Linked DNA regions of Homo sapiens: region 2 is linked to region 1. Evidence: fine-mapped expression QTL. Tissue or cell type: whole blood. Region 1 holds a variant in brackets; the other region holds the start of a gene. All regions are shown on one strand. Distances are from middle to middle.

Region 1 (8,100 bases):
GCCTGGGGTCTGGCTCCTAAGCCCATGCTCTTTCAATGGCCCAAACATGGAACGCGTGGAAGATTTGAGTTAGAAGAGAACTTGGCAGCTGCCAAAGCAGCCTCTCATTCTACGGAGGAAGCACCTGAGACCCAGAAAGAGGAAGGGCCTCGTCCAAGGTCACAAGGCACTGACCGTGAAGCCAGGAGGGGCTGGCATGGGGCAGTTTCTTGGCAGAGTTGGCTGAGTGGTTTATTTGCTACAGGTTTGCTTGGAAGCGTTCTTTGCCGAAGAGTTTAGGAGCGATCGTGACTGGTTAGTGCAAGCCATTCCGCCGGGTCTGGATGGTGAGTCATGCCAGTGTGTCCTGTGCGAACACGGACTACCCGCCTGCTCCCGGCATCTTGCCCTCCCCAGGACCCCTGAAACGGAGGCTAAACGATTCACCCAAGGTCACCAAATACAAGAGAAAAGGAGTGTGGCCAGGCACGGTGGCTCATGCCTGTAATCCTAGCACTTTGGGAGGCTGAGGTGTGTGGATCACCTGAGGTCAGGAGTTCGAGACCAGCCTGGCCAACATGGTGAAACCCCATCTCTACCAAAATACAAAAAATTAGCCGGGTGCGGTGGTGGGTGCCTGTAGTCCCAGTTACTTTGGAGGCTGAGGCAGGAGATTCACTTGAACCTGGGGGGCAGATGTTGCAGTGAGCCGAGATCATGCCATTGCACTATAGCCTGGGCAAAAGAGCAAAACTTCATCAAAAAAAGAAAAAAAGAGGGCCGGGCGTGGTGGCTGACGCCTGTAATCCCAGCACTTTGGGAGGCTGAGACGGGCGGATCGCGAGGTCAGGAGTTCGAGACCAGCCTGGCTAACGTGGTGAAACCCTGTCTCTACTAAAAATACAAAAAATTAGCCAGGAGTGGTGGCATGCGTCTGTAGTCCCAGCTAGTCAGGAAGCTGAGGCAGGAGAATCGCTTGAACCCGGGAGGTGGAGGTTGTGGTGAGCCGCTGAGATCGCGCCACTGTACTCCAGCCTGGGCCATAGAGCGAGACTCCATCTTAAAAAAAAAAAAAAAATAGAAACAGAGTGGAAATCTGAACCCGTGTGGCTCGGGATGGTCTCTACTCTCTCATCTTGAAAGACCCCATCAGCTAAGACAAGGATCCAGTTGCATTTGGGAAATTTGAGGCTCTACTTACAAGTGTTACTGCTGGTTCGCCGCGCACAGGAACGCTGAGAACACCATCACCCTGGCCTCATCGAACGACTCCAGAGAGGGGCCCACATCTGCTCAACCCAGGAGAAAGCTGAGGTCTTCCAAGTGTTCTTCCCCAACATCTTAGGTCTGTTCCCACTGACTCCAATCTGAAGAGGGTGATGTTCCCTGCTGTCTGTTCTCACTTTGATCAGGACCACTGTGGACTGGCGTGTACCCACCTCTTTTTGTAGAAACTCATCCCAATCCCTGAGCCTAATGGTTAAAGTTCAACCCATGCCTTTCCCAATGGGGTGGGTCCACAGGGACTAGTGGCCTCTGCTGGGGACAGGCCGCTCAGGTCACTGGGCTTTGATCTGGCAAACAGGAGCACAAGTCTGCCAGGGAGCTACAAAAACTTTACGGTGGGGCTGTGTGAGCACCAGGGGATTACGCGGGGGGTGGGGGCGAGTGGATGAGAGCAGAGTCCCGGTTTCTTTCATGGGGTTGACCCTGTGGTTTGGGGCTCCGGGACACTCAGTACCAGGCACAAAGCCACGGTGTGCGTGTGAGGAGGGACTGACAGGCAGGCTCAGAAGTACAGGAATGGGACTGGCCAAAGCGCTGCTGGGTAGACAGGCTGGGGGAGCAGGGAGCTTCTGTCCACCCACCAGGGCTCCTGAAGTCACAGAGTCCTTGCTTGCCTCAAAATAGGTGCGATTTGATTCATTCATCCTCCCCGGAAACAAGATGCCCTGTGGCTTGGGACACTTCCAGGTCATGCCGGCTGTCTTGGCATAAACATTAACGGGGCCACCTTTCTTTCTTTCTTTTCTTTTCTTTTTTTTTTAGGCAGAGTTTCACTTCTGTTGCCTGGGCTAGAGTGCAATGGCGTGATCTCAGCTCACTGCAACCTCTGCCTCCCAGGTTCAAGCAATTCTCCTGCCTCAGCCTCCTGAGTAGCTGGGATTACAGTTGCCCACCACCATGCCCAGCTTCGCCGTCCAAGAGCCTGGGGCCGTGGGGGGCGGGGCTGCCTGCTATCGGCCCCGCCCCGCCGACAGGACCCGCCTCTCTCCCCAGGCCCGGCGGGGCCGACCCCGCCTCTCGCTCCCAGCTTGCCGTACGACAGCGGCGGCGCGGCGGGCGGAGCCGGGAGGCGGGGAAGCAGTGGCCGTGTGAGCGTGAGGAGCTGCCGCCACCGCCTGCTCCTCGTCCTCCTCGTCCTCCGGGGCCCCAGCGTCGTGGGCCGCGCACGGCCCTGGAAGAGACGTCGCCTCGCCTTCATCCGCCTCTCTCACCGCGCCGCTCCCTCGTCCTGCCCTGCGGGCTCAGGCGGAACCCGGAACGGCCGTCCTCTTCCCCCGCCCTCCGCCGCCGCCTCCTCCTCCTCCTTCTCGGCTTCCTCCTCAGCCCCGGGCCGGAGCGGGGTGTCGGCGGCGGCCGGTTCGGGCGGCGGCGCTTGGCCATGTCGTGTCGGGGAAGGTAATGAGCCGCAGAGCCCCGGGGTCTCGGCTGAGCAGCGGCGGCACCAACTATTCGCGGAGCTGGAATGACTGGCAACCCAGGTGGGTGACCGGCCCGGGACCCCGCCCCGACCTCCCGGGCTCCGCCTCGGGCGGGCCGAGGCCTAGGGCCGCGGGGCTGGGAGGCGCGGCCTAGGCCCTCCACCCACCGGAGCCGGGCGCGGCTTCCTGGGTCTCCTCCTCCCCGGCTAGGGGAGGAAGGCCGCGGGGAGGCGAGGCCTAAGTGCCTCTCCCCTCCCTGCTTGTTCAGCCCGGGGCTGAAGCCGAGCCCCGGGGCTCCCGGCGGTGGCACTGACCTAGGGTCGGGACCAGGAGGTGAGAAAGAGGCGGGGGTGGTGGGGGGGGCATTCCACTTACCGCCTCCCCCTGACCCCGAGTTGGGAGATCCTGAGAGTCCAGGACCCTCCCTGTTACTCATTCACTTTCTCGGTTCCCCAGTCTTTCAGCCGCCACGTGAGAGCTCTTGTAGCCTCTGTTCCTTTCTGTGACCCCCACATGTTAATATTGAAAAAACCAAAACAAAACTCCAGCCAAGGCATTGCTCTGACTTTAGGCAGAACATTCATTAGTGGAGCATGAGATGAGATTGTGTGACTGTTGATGGGATCGACCCACTCTGGTCTTGGGCGATGGAAGTTTTCCCTAAGTGCAAGGCCGGTTACTCTGGTGAATCGTAATTCATACCTGGACACTTGAGTGAACTCTTTGGGCACCCACTTAGAAGTCTAGAGAATTTCCTCTTTTATGGAGGATTTGATCTCAGACCGTTTTGGGGCTTAGTTAGATTTGAATATATTAGGAACATTAACTTTTTAAATAAATGTAATTTCCTATCTTTTTGATCAATGGGGGGAGGGTAGCTGTGCCTAATTTAGGATTGATTTATTCTAACCTCTCTTACTAAATAAATGCTTGTATTCAGAGTCTGTTTGGAATTTAACCCAATGCTTAGAACTCCTTAAATATACAGAAATATATTTTAGGGGCAATTGATTCATGGAACTCTCCTGCTTTGGAGCACAATTGTATTATAATTGTCCGGAAACTGGCCAGATAATGTAGAACGCACAAGTTGTTGAGAAGCCCTTTTGTTTCCTGATAGTTACATGTAATTCCAGCAGTATTTGGAAATAATTTGCTAAGATGTTAGAATGTAACATTTGAAGACTCATTAGAAAAATCAATAAAATTATCTTTGGCTAATGGGTAGTACACATCTTAGTCTGTTTAATATGCCTTTCCAAAAAAAACTGTGTCTGTTGAGAATTGGTGTATATAACTAGATGACTTTAATAATTAGTGCCTGAGTCTAGAATTGAGATGTTTAGTCGTAAAAAAAAATATTGTTCGATAAACAGCGTTGGCTTGTCTTGTACCACTTAAGAGTTTGTGAGTGCTTTAAATAAAATTAGTTAAGTATTTTTCTTCCTATGATTGACATGCTTAGTTTTGCCTTTTTATTGAAATGTGTGAAATTTGATTATCTGGCATCTAACAAATCAGGTGGTAAATGAATGACAATGGATTTTCTATTATTTTTCAGTATTGTGATCAGTATAAGTATATAAGAGAATTTAGTAACCTTTTAGAAGAATAAAGTGCCTTCCCAAATAGTCCTACAGCTTTTGTAAAGTGTAAATTGTAGTTTATAGTTCTAAATAAATAGAGAAGAGTCGCAGCCACGTGCTAGGGCCAGCTGACTTCATTGCTGACAGGTATGAAGCCAAATGGCTTATGTAGTTATGGAATATGTACATGAGCTATTAATAAATATTATCCATGTTGTTTCTTTCAAGTGCTTTATTTCTCGGCTCTGGGGAGGGGCGATGTGGGAAGGGAGGAGCTTACAAGAAAGCTTGCAAGGTTTCTTTGAAGCTGTGCTTTTTGTAGGAAAGTTT[C/T]AGGATGTAACGCCTTGGTAGACGATACTGTGATACATTTGGTTACAGGGAGTAACAGTTTGTTAGGATGTTGGAAAGATTTGATTTTCTCCTGTTGTAGAGGGAACAGGGAAGTGTGGACATACCCCATAGCATAACTTGATTTGTTGCTAAGATTGTCATAGCTGATTTGTTAGTCAATAAAAATACCTGGGGTGTTTGCCAAGTCATAAATTTTTATTAGTTAAATTTGAGGTGATTCCGTCCCCTATTCCGAAAGATGACAGACTCCAGGTAACTGACGGAATGGATCTTGATCTTGCTTCTTACTTAAATGAAGGTTTAGAACATCTTCAGATGCAGGCACATTTATTATGGTTCATCTGAATAATTTTGGTGAAAATTTTTTTGCCTCTTATGTACCATTTTGTCCCTGGTGTTTTGGTTCTGTTTTCCTTGATGTAGGCTTTTTTTTTTTTTGTCTTCCTGAGATGGAGTCTTGCTCTGTCTCCCAGGCTGGAGTGCAGTGGTGTAATCTCGACTCACTGCAGCCTCTGCCTCCTGGTTACAGGGAAAAATTCTCCTGCCTCAGCCTCCTGAGTAGCTGGGATTACAGGCGTCCAGCTAATTTTTGTATTTTTAGTAGAGACGGGATTCCACCATGTTGGCCGGCCTGTTCTTGGACTCCTGACTCAGGTGATCCGCCTGCTTTGGCCTCCCAAAGTGCTGGGATTACAGGTGTAAGTCACCGCACTCAGCCGATTTAGGCTTTTGAAAAAGCAATACTTGTTGATTTCTTTTAGTGTTAGTTTGCCAGTTGGTGTGGAAAATGACTGTTGAGTCAATTTTGACCACACATGATACTTCACACATACTGACAAGAAGTGTTCCAGGTGGCTGAATACGTGAATGTCATATGGCAAGAGAGCAAACCCGTGTTCCATAGAAGCATACCTCCAACAGTAAGCATTTATATGGCACTGGCTTATAGTCTTCCTTTTCATTCACTGTGCTCTCAGTCAACTCTTCTGTCAATTTTTTTGAGACAGGGTCTTGCTGTGTCACCCAGGCTGGAGTGCAGCGGCACAGATACTTGGCTTACTGCAGTCTCGACCTCCCAGGCTCAAGCCTCCTGCCTCAGCATCCACAAGTAGCTGGGGCTACAGGCGCTTGCCAACAGCCTGGCTCATTTTTGTATTTTTTGTAGAGATGGGGTTTTCACCACGTTGCCCAGGCTGGTCTTGAACCCCTGAACTCAAGCAATCTGCCCACCTTCAGCCTCCCAAAGTGTTGAGATTACAGGTGTGAGCCACCGCACCCGACATTTAAGAATGGTTAATAGGCCGGGGGCAGTGGCTCACGCCTGTAATCCCAGCACTTTGGGAGGCTGAGGTGGGTGGATCACCTGAGGTCACGAGTTCAAGACCAGCCTGGCCAACCGACATGGTGAAACCCCGTCTCTACTAAAAAAAATAAATAAATAAATTAGCGGGATGTGGTGGTGCATGCCTGTAATCCCAGTTACTCGGGAGGCTGAGGCAGGAGAATCACTTGAACCTGAGAGGCGGAGGTTGTAGTGAGCGACATCACACCACTGCACTCCAGCCTGGGCAACAGAGCAAGACTCCTTCTCAAAAAAATAAAAATAAAAAATTAAAAAAAGAATGGTTAAACAAATGAGTGGTCTTAGGTCAGTTGTATTATTTGAAATCTGTGGGTTCCTCAGGCATAAAGTTGAGAAGGTTTTGGGAACCACTGGATGCCTCTGGGTTTTTTCATATGAAGAAACAGGGGTGGTGGCTTCTTAGAACAAAGGGATATCTGACCTATGGAGGTTGCCCTCTTTACTCCTCTTCCCTAAAAAAATGACCTATCATTGCCAATAGCTAAAGTCTGTCATTTTTTCCACCTTAGTTTGGAAGATAATCTTCTAGTATCAATCAAGACAGAGATCAGAATGATGTGTTTTAAAATTAAATGTGTAATTCATAATTGTACATTTTAATATTCTAAAGTGACATTGATTAATTTGACATTGGAGTCAAATAGATTGATTAATTCAACAAAAGAGAAGGCATTCAAGTCAACAGAAAACAAGTAGATTTTACTTTTCCACTCGGGGTATTAGGACATTAATTGTGTAATTGGTCTTACTTGTTTAGTAGTAGATCTGTATTGAGTGTCTTACTGTGCCCAAACTTAGGATCTTTCTGTATTTCTAAAAGGATGAAACTGTATAATAAAAACACCTTCCAATTTTGGTAGATTGTAGACAGAGCAGAGTATTCAAAAGTATACACATCTTCTCTATTGTGAAAGACCAAAAAATGGAAATATGTTGTGAAATTAGAAAAGCTGTATACTAGTATGTCTGATGTTGTGAGAAGCTGGATTTTTGAAACCAGAGTTGTCTATTCAGCCTTTTATCAGTCTGTAGTAAGTTTGATGTCCATAGGTACATAATATAGGGAAATACATAAAGGATAAAATTAAGTGAAGTTACATATTTTATACGTATTAGGTGGGTGCAAAAGTAATTGCAGTTTTGGCAAAAACCGCAGTTACTTCACACCAGTCTAATTTTAAATGGAACTAGAGTCAAATAGAATTTAGCGATTGCCAGTTCTGTTCCACAGATTTCAAAGTACACTAAGGAAAATTTCAGCAAATTGTGTATGGCAGTTTTACTTGGAGGAGAGTAAAACAGCCATAATAAACTAAAAAATAAAAATTAAAACTAAAGGAACGTTTGTTTTTATGTTTTTCTTTTCTTTTCTTTCCTCTTTTTTGAGATATGCTCTTGCTCTGTTGCCCAGGCTGGAGTGCAGTGGTGCAGTCACTGCTCACTGCAGCCTTGACTTCCTGGGCTCTGGGAATCCTCCCGCCTTAGCCTCCTGAGTAGCTGGGACCACAGGTGCATACCACCACACCTGACTAATTTATTTATTTTTCCTCTCTCTCTCTCTCTTTTTTTTTTTGAGACAGAGTTTTACTTTGTCGCCCAGGCTGGAGTATAGTGGCACAATCTCAGCTCACTTGCAACCTCCACCTCCTGGTTCAAGTGATTCTCCTGTCTCAGCCTCCCAAGTAGCTGGGAATACAGGTGCATGCCACTATGCCCGGCTAATTTTTGTGTTTTTAGTGGAGATAGGATTTCACCATGTTGGCCAGGCTGGTCTTGAACTGCTGACCTCAGGTGATCCACCCGCTTCGGCCTCCCAAAGTGCTGGGATTCCAGGCGTGAGCCACCACGCCTGGCCGCCTCTCTCTTTTTCTGAAACAGAGTCTCACTTCATTGCCCAGGTTGGAGTGCAGTGGAACCATCTCAGCTCACTGCAGCCTCCACCTCCCAGGCTCAATAAGTCCTCCTACCTCACCCTCCCAATAGCTGGGACCACAGGTGCATGTCACCACCCCCAGCTACTTTTTTTTGTTTTCTGTAGAGACGGGGTTTTGCCATGCTGCCTGGGCTGGTCTTGAATACCTAGGCTCAAGTGATCCTTCCTCCTTGGCCTCCTAAA
Region 2 (8,100 bases), 22 kb before region 1:
ATGACGGAGTGGTTCATGTGCATCTTCGCCCGCACCCTGCCCTGGGCGTCGGTGCTGCGTGTCTGGGACATGTTTTTCTGTGAAGGTACTTCTGTGGCCCTCCAGGCCATGAGGGGCTGGGGTTTCTGTGGTGGCTACCAGGGGTTCTGTCATATTTCTGGTGGTCCATGGACAAAAGGTACTTGTTGGGTGGAGGTTTCACCATAAGCAGCTGGGGGCTGGAGAAACAGGCCTGATTTTAGTTCTGCCACCAACCCAGAGCCTGCTCTCCCTGCCAAGATCCTGAGACTGATAGCAGCTCATGTACTTTCACAGGGCCTCAGTTTCCTCATCTGAGATTGGCAGTAGATGGGGATGGGGGCTGTGAGTCTATCCTGATCAGGACAGGCTGAGATCTTGGGTCTGACCACCCCATGCTCTCTACTCTCCACCCCTGCAGGCGTTAAGATCATCTTCCGGGTGGCCCTGGTCCTGCTGCGCCACACGCTGGGCTCAGTGGAGAAGCTGCGCTCCTGCCAAGGCATGTATGAGACCATGGAGCAGCTGCGTAACCTGCCCCAGCAGTGCATGCAGGAAGACTTCCTGGTGCATGAGGTAGGCCTGTGCCCTCAACGCAGCCCCTGCCTGCCTCAGCCCGCTCCCACCCTCAGCTCCATTCTGGTACGCATTTCCTCTCTGTGCAGGTGACCAATCTGCCGGTGACAGAAGCACTGATTGAGCGGGAGAATGCAGCCCAGCTCAAGAAGTGGCGGGAAACGCGGGGGGAGCTGCAGTATCGGCCCTCACGGCGACTGCATGGGTCCCGGGCCATCCACGAGGAGCGCCGGCGGCAACAGCCACCCCTGGGCCCCTCCTCCAGCCTCCTCAGCCTCCCTGGCCTCAAGAGCCGAGGCTCCCGGGCAGCTGGAGGGGCCCCGTCCCCGCCGCCCCCCGTCCGCAGAGCCAGTGCTGGGCCTGCCCCAGGGCCTGTGGTCACTGCTGAGGGACTGCATCCATCCCTTCCCTCACCCACTGGCAATAGCACCCCCTTGGGTTCCAGCAAGGAGACCCGGAAGCAGGAGAAGGAGCGGCAGAAACAGGAGAAGGAGCGGCAGAAACAGGAGAAGGAGCGGGAGAAGGAGCGGCAGAAGCAGGAGAAAGAGCGAGAGAAGCAGGAAAAGGAGCGAGAGAAGCAGGAGAAGGAGCGGCAGAAGCAGGAGAAGAAGGCTCAAGGCCGGAAGCTTTCGCTGCGTCGAAAGGCAGATGGGCCCCCAGGCCCCCATGATGGTGGGGACAGGCCCTCAGCCGAGGCCCGGCAGGACGCTTACTTCTGACCTCTGCCCTGGGGCTGGACTGCATGGCCCCCCTCTTTCCCTCAGCCAAGAACAGGCCTGGCCCAAGGTGCCACCCCCTAGCACCTTGTCAGGCTGTCCCTTGCTGGGGAAAGTGGCTTGGTTCCCCATCTCCTCGCCAGCTGCTGATCCCTACACGGGCAGGACAGATGGGCAGCTGCAAATGAGTCTGGAGCCTCTCATCTCCCATGAGGCTCAGCTGGGGTCTCTGTCGCTCCTGCCCCAGTTCCCTCTGGGTCCCCTCCTAGGTGCTGTCCTGAATGGCCCGTTGTCATCCCAGGGGTGACTCCTGGTGATGGGAGTCAGCAGTTTCAGATTCTTACACTCCATAGCTCCCCTTACCATGAGGTGGAGCTGGCTTCCTTTTCCCTGTCTTCAGCCCTCCCTGTCTCCCCCACTTCCTGGCCAGGGCTCTCATTCTGGACCTGTGTTGTAATTGTGTACAGAGGATGGCGTTGGCCTGGGGTGGGGGTGCTCGCTTTGTCTTCTGTCCTTTGGTTCTCCTTCCATAATGCTCCTGTACCCAGTTTATTTAAGGGGACATGCACTGGAATAGGAAATGTCCCCCATCTCCCTTCCTGCACCCTGCTGTGCTCCCTCCAAACCCACCTTGCTCTGTGTTCTCAGGCCCCCCTGCTTTTGTCTCACCAGGACCCATACCTTTCACCTTGTTCCCTTCCACCCCTCCAGTTAGTCCCTATCTGGGTAAGGGTCTTCCCTTGAGCTCCAGGGGGTGGAACCCAATGTTTACATTCTCTTCTGTCTCTGCCCCCACCCCATGCAGCGCTTTGAGGAATTGGAAAAGAACCTGCTGTTGTACCTGGGCCTGTTTTCTGCCTTGTTATTTGATGAGGGGGGGATGGGGTAAGGACGAGGGAGGGAGGGACAGAGCCAGGACCTGGGTCTCTGTTGAAGCAGTCTGCTGTCTTGGCAAGTAGGTACCTCTTAGCTTTGGGTCCATCTCTCAGTCACTCATCAGACACTGGTTGAGCTCCTGCTCCATCTTTGCCTGGGATCTGCTGTCTCCATTGTCACTGGCTGCCTGGAGCTCTCTATGTACCACGTGCAGCACCCGGATCTCCTTCCCAAAGTGCTCATGCAACTCCTGGAAGCTGGAGGGGGTACTCACAGTGGCTAGAAAGCCACTGTCCTCTGGGGATGAGATGGGTTCTTGGCCAGTTGCCTGGCACAGCTCCCAGTATTGGGTTTTGGTGGGGGGGGAGGGGGGACAGCAGCCCAGCCAGCCGCCTCCAGCTCGCGCCAGCCAGTGCCCACAGCCAAGTCTCCAGCTCTTCCTGGGTTTCTGCAGCCAGCTTGTAGGCCCGCCCACCTGTGCCCTCCACCCCAGGGGTCAGGATGGTAAAGGCATAGGGTTCTGCAGCCTTAAGGTGTGGTTCCACCTGGCAGTTCTCTAACAGGATGAGGCTCAGGGGTGCATGGTCGGTCTAGTGTTCTAGGTAGAAGAGGAGGTTTCCTCGGAGGATGAACCATCGGCGCTGGTAGCTGAGGTTTCGGGTCCCCTTCTTTAGCAGAATGCCTTCCTGGTCTGGGGCCTGTGTTCTGTAACCATGGAAGAAACTGAGCACGGACTTTCTGTGCAGTTTTCATCGTGATCCAATATGGGAGGAAACCCCTAGGGAGAGAGAAGTGGCCCATCTAGTTGCCTGGGGGAAGAGTAGGGGAACTCTCATGCTGTCCTCGTCTGGCTTCAGCACGTGCTGCCTGCGCACAGTCTTGGCTTAGGGGGATGCAGGCTCCGAGTGTCAAGAGCTAGGGGTCCCAGCACAGGGGCTGATCCCCGCTACCTCCCCAATTCCCCCTTCTGCTTGGGCCACATTCCGCTACCTGGGCAGGAGTTGCTAGGCCCTGTTTGCTCAGGGGGGCTTCATGCTGCAGAGAGGCACTGTTGCCCTTTTCCAGGCCTACCTGAGAGCAGGGCACAAGGGGCTTCTGGCCTGAGTACTGGCGCCAATGCCACCTCTCCAGTGATGGCTCTCCCACCTCAGAAACCAGGAACTCGCCCAGGGTATGGGCGTGGGACAAATTATTTCCCCTGGGTCCTAAAGGGAGGTGTGTTCAGAAAGTGCCCGGAGAGCCGTCCAGGGGCCCCAGGCTGGCCATCGGGAGAGTCAGGCTTCCCCTCGGAGAGGCAAGGCTGCACCTCTCAGGCTAGGAGGGCTGACCACTGGACCATAGGAATGGGAAGGCAGGATTTCTAACGAGACGGTAGGGGCGCTGAGCCCTTAGCCCTGGGGGAAGGGTGACTTGAACCCAGGACAGGAAAACGGAGCAGCAACCCACTGACCCTGCTCGGACTTTGCCCCTCCATCCTGACCCTGGGCGGCCCTTTAAGCAGATGCGCTCCAGTTTTTCTCCAGAGCCTCTACTGCTTGAATGACGGACTCGAAGCTACTTCCGGCCATTTCTCACGCCCAGTCAGAGTCCAGGAATTCTTAGGTTCCCTCTTCTCACCATTGTCCTCCCACGTGACTGACGTCACTTCTGGCGGGAGAGAGGGTGGAGGCGTCTTCGCTCGCTTATCGCATACTTCCGCCCGCTCTTCCAGTTAGTTCCCTAACCCGAGTGAAGCCACTTCCGGGCTTCCCGGGCGCCTTCCGCAGTCCTCTTCCGGGTGATGGCGGCCGGGTGCCCCGGATGTAGCCCTGGCGCAAGCATCTCTTCTTTTTTCCACCTCGCCTTCCGCGGATTCCCAGGTGAGTGCGCGAGGGTGGGACCGCCCGAATCCCCGTGGCCCTCTAAGTTGTACACAGCCCGGGACAGTTGGGGCTCACCACACGGAATTGGGAGTTCGGAGCAGGGAGGAACGGGGTGGCGAGAGCGCCAGGTCCTGGGTCTGCCGGGGCCCGGCGAGCTCCGAGAGAGCCAGGGTAGAGAGCGGGGGTCAGCCCGTGGAGCCGGTGGCGCGCAGACTGCGGGGGCTGGAGTTGGGGGCGGTCACGTGGTGAAGCCTGTCTCCTTTCAGCCAGGGTCGGGGGATCCAGAGGGTCCGCTCCTCCGTCCCCGCCCCGTTTAACTCGCGGATGCTAGACCCAAGTCCTGGAGGCCTCCTGGCTGCCAGCTTCCTTTCGGCCCCTGCTTTTGTGCTCCCTCCGCTCCCAAACTGTACCTGTCACAGACCAGGAAAAATGTTTGCTGTGCTGCGTCTGTTGGCGAGTCCCCTCCTCACCCGGTTCCCTTCCTCTGCATCCTTTCCTCAGCTTGAGAAACACCTCTTTGCCCCGTCATGCCAAAGAGGAAAGTGACCTTCCAAGGCGTGGGAGATGAGGAGGATGAGGATGAAATCATTGTCCCCAAGAAGAAGGTGAGGGGGCCAGACTGCTTTGTGTGGGGGAAAGAGGAGCTAGAAGCCTGAAGAGGAAGAAAGCTGGCGGGAGAGGGGCGGGGCGGGCAGGCAGAGAAAAGCCTAGTTTTTTCAGGTTCTCTGAGGAATGGGTTGGGAGCGTCTTTAGTGTGGCTCCTGAAATATTTGGGGAAGTAGTCGAGATCCTGAAATATTTGGGGAATATTTGGGTCCAGATCCGGAAGTATTTGGGGAGGTAGCCAGTAACCTGCATTTCTCAACTTTCTGGCTCCTGCTCACAGCTGGTGGACCCTGTGGCTGGGTCAGGGGGTCCTGGGAGCCGCTTTAAAGGCAAACACTCTTTGGATAGCGATGAGGAGGAGGATGATGATGATGGGGGGTCCAGCAAATATGACATCTTGGCCTCAGAGGATGTAGAAGGTAAGCTGTACCCAAGAATACACTCTGCTGGAAAAACAAGTAGGGGCCTCTGGTGGTGTGGAGCGAGGGAGGCTCCGGTCTCTTTTTTCCATGCCTGGAAAAGGGCACCTGTGTCTTTGGTGCAGGTCAGGAGGCAGCCACACTCCCCAGCGAGGGGGGTGTTCGGATCACACCCTTTAACCTGCAGGAGGAGATGGAGGAAGGCCACTTTGATGCCGATGGCAACTACTTCCTGAACCGGGATGCTCAGATCCGAGACAGCTGGCTGGACAACATTGACTGGGTGCGGCCCAGGGGCTGGCGTGGCTGGGGCCTGGGAGTGGCAGATGCTGGGCCTGCTCCCGTGGCAGTTGGTGGGAAATCACTCCATCTTCCCATTACAGGTGAAGATCCGGGAGCGGCCACCTGGCCAGCGCCAGGCCTCAGACTCGGAGGAGGAGGACAGCTTGGGCCAGACCTCAATGAGTGCCCAAGCCCTCTTGGAGGGACTTTTGGAGCTCCTATTGCCTAGAGAGACAGTGGCTGGGGCACTGAGGCGTCTGGGGGCCCGAGGAGGAGGCAAAGGGAGAAAGGGGCCTGGGCAACCCAGTTCCCCTCAGCGCCTGGACCGGCTCTCCGGGTTGGCCGACCAGATGGTGGCCCGGGGCAACCTTGGTGTGTACCAGGAAACAAGGGAACGGTTGGCTATGCGTCTGAAGGGTTTGGGGTGTCAGACCCTAGGACCCCACAATCCCACACCCCCACCCTCCCTGGACATGTTCGCTGAGGAGTTGGCGGAGGAGGAACTGGAGACCCCAACCCCTACCCAGAGAGGAGGTGAGCTTGGAGGACAGAGGAGGGGGCAGTGGGTAGGAAGTGAGACACTGGAGGCCAAATGGCTTTGCCTGTTATTTTAGAAGCAGAGTCGCGGGGAGATGGTCTGGTGGATGTGATGTGGGAATATAAGTGGGAGAACACGGGGGATGCCGAGCTGTATGGGCCCTTCACCAGCGCCCAGATGCAGGTGAGCTGCTTTCTCCCTCCTCCTGCCTTGTCCCTGCTTCCCCCACTCCTGTCAGTTGTTCCCCAGCTCTGCCCTCTCCTTGCAGACCTGGGTGAGTGAAGGCTACTTCCCGGACGGTGTTTATTGCCGGAAGCTGGACCCCCCTGGTGGTCAGTTCTACAACTCCAAACGCATTGACTTTGACCTCTACACCTGAGCCTGCTGGGGGCCCAGTTTGGTGGGCCCTTCTTTCCTGGACTTTGTGGAGGAGGCACCAAGTGTCTCAGGCAGCGAGGAAATTGGAGGCCATTTTTCAGTCAATTTCCCTTTCCCAATAAAAGCCTTTAGTTGTGTACTGGGGCCTTGGCTGTGCTGATGGCCAGAAGCCAGGGGCCTTCTCCACAGTCCCTTTGGACTTGTCTTGGTCCCTGAGTACTCCCATGAAGATCCTTCTTGGAGGTGCCTGTCAGGTATCCTGTGGCCTCCCTGCCTGGACTCTGCTTGCCGTGTAAACACCCCCAACTGCGCTGCTCTGTGCTCCTCTCCCAGGTTTCTTGTTCGATTCCTCTTAGGTCTTTGGCTTTCAGGACCTCAGATTCTTTATCCTTGTAGCCACCAGAGGACAGAGCCCCAGAAGTGGATGTTTTAGGCCCAGAAGGACCAGGGCATCGAGAAGACATTGGGACCCTGTTGGGGGTGAGCATGGAACCCTCTTACTCTCGCTTCACCCTCTCAAGCTCCTTAGATGCTGGGCAGAAGTGGGATGAGTGGCCCAAGACCGAGATCCCTAAGGTTCTGAGAGCCAGTGTCTTCCCTAATCTGGCTTTCCTCTATCCTTGCCGTCGTTCCCACAGCCCTTCAGTGAAGTGCAAACTCAGTGGCCAAGTGTGGGCCAAGTGTGCATTGTACTGGCACAGAGAGGGGCAGTGACTCACTGGAGATCACAGGAATCAAAGGGCTGGCCCAGACCCAGTGGGCTCCTTTCCCAGACCTTTCTTGGCACAAAGCCTTTGCTGCCTGGCCTTGGAGGCCCTGCGGCCTACATTCTCTGGACCCCACTATGTGCCTGGCACAGGGCTAGTGCCTTGAGGAAACTGAGGTAGCTGGGTTGGTCCCCTTCCAGGAATTCAGAGTCTGGTGGCAGGGGCATGGGAAATAGACAGATGTAATTCTATAGCCTGGGCCTGGCACCCTCCACCTCCACGCCCCACCAGCATTGCCTTACGCCTCCCTTGCCCCACGTTAGATGGTTTCTTCCGGTTTTGCACTCTGGCTGCCCCTTGGAGTCTCCTGGGGAGCTGTAATATCTCTTTGGAGATTCAGATTGAGCTGGTCTAGGTTGTGGCCCAGGCATTGGGCATTTTGGAAGCCCCCAGGTGTTTTCAGCTTGCAGCCAGGCCGAGAGAGAGCCCCTGAGTCAGATCCCCATGGTTTAGGCACACCTAGCGGGAGGGGTGGCTCCTGGACCCCACCGTGGTTGGAGAGCTGAGCATGTGTGTGGCTTTAGTGGGGTCTGTTAGTTATGGGGGTCTGGGCACTGGAGCTGCAGGACACTTGGGATCCCAGGTCAGAAAGGGCCAGATGAGCAACTAGGAAAGACTTGGGGGCCAGGGCGGAGTGGGGTCACCTGACACTCTTGTGAGGCCCCTTCTAGTGCCTGCTCACACCGGAATTTCATTCACTCCAAGAAGCCATCAGGGGTAAGATACCTTCCTTTAAACGTCACTAAGAAAGAAGAGGCCTGCCGGTGACACAGTAAGATGCCATTGATCTAAAGATGCGTCTTGATTTCAGAAAGGTCCGGAAGTGGAAAGCAGGTTTCAGGGCTGCTGAGGTACAGGGTTCTCCTGTAGGCCCCAGGGATGGTCTCAGGGGTGCTGAGTGCGTGCGTGGTAAATGGATGGAGCCCAGGGGCGCCTCCTGCCAGTGTCCTCCAGGCACTCAAACCTAGCCCTTCTGAAGCCGACCTCACGTGACCTCACAGCCCCTCCTGAAGGCGCCTCACTGATGACGGTGGGTGGAATAACAGCCCCCAGAGATGTCCA

Evidence for each region. PIP is the estimated chance that this variant, and not a neighbour inherited with it, causes the effect.
Region 2: CD2BP2 starts here. The variant in region 1 is fine-mapped to the expression of CD2BP2 in whole blood (INTERVAL, PIP above 0.99).

What each region holds. Positions count from the first base shown.
Region 1 is chr16:30,329,619-30,337,718 of GRCh38, reverse strand. It overlaps the pseudogene SMG1P5 and the pseudogene LOC100421031. Among named protein-coding and RNA genes, the nearest start is that of CD2BP2, 22 kb to the left of the region's middle. RefSeq lists an enhancer at 1,788-1,887 and a silencer at 2,118-2,937. The variant C/T (reference allele first, on the strand shown) is at 4,601.
Region 2 is chr16:30,351,157-30,359,256 of GRCh38, reverse strand. It overlaps CD2BP2 (CD2 cytoplasmic tail binding protein 2), which reads left to right and starts at 3,949. Exons shown (of 7, transcript NM_006110.3): 1 at 3,949-4,045; 2 at 4,550-4,653; 3 at 4,935-5,073; 4 at 5,199-5,356; 5 at 5,457-5,889; 6 at 5,970-6,076; 7 at 6,162-8,100. The coding sequence starts at 4,576. The coding sequence ends at 6,272. TBC1D10B (TBC1 domain family member 10B) reads left to right here. Exons shown (of 9, transcript NM_015527.4): 7 at 1-85; 8 at 440-594; 9 at 684-2,155. The coding sequence ends at 1,313. It overlaps CD2BP2-DT (CD2BP2 divergent transcript), which reads right to left and starts at 3,823. Exons shown (of 2, transcript NR_184233.1): 1 at 3,637-3,823; 2 at 1-2,964. RefSeq lists enhancers at 3,778-3,837, 3,918-3,977, 3,032-3,983, 3,715-4,009, 3,700-4,899 and 1 more.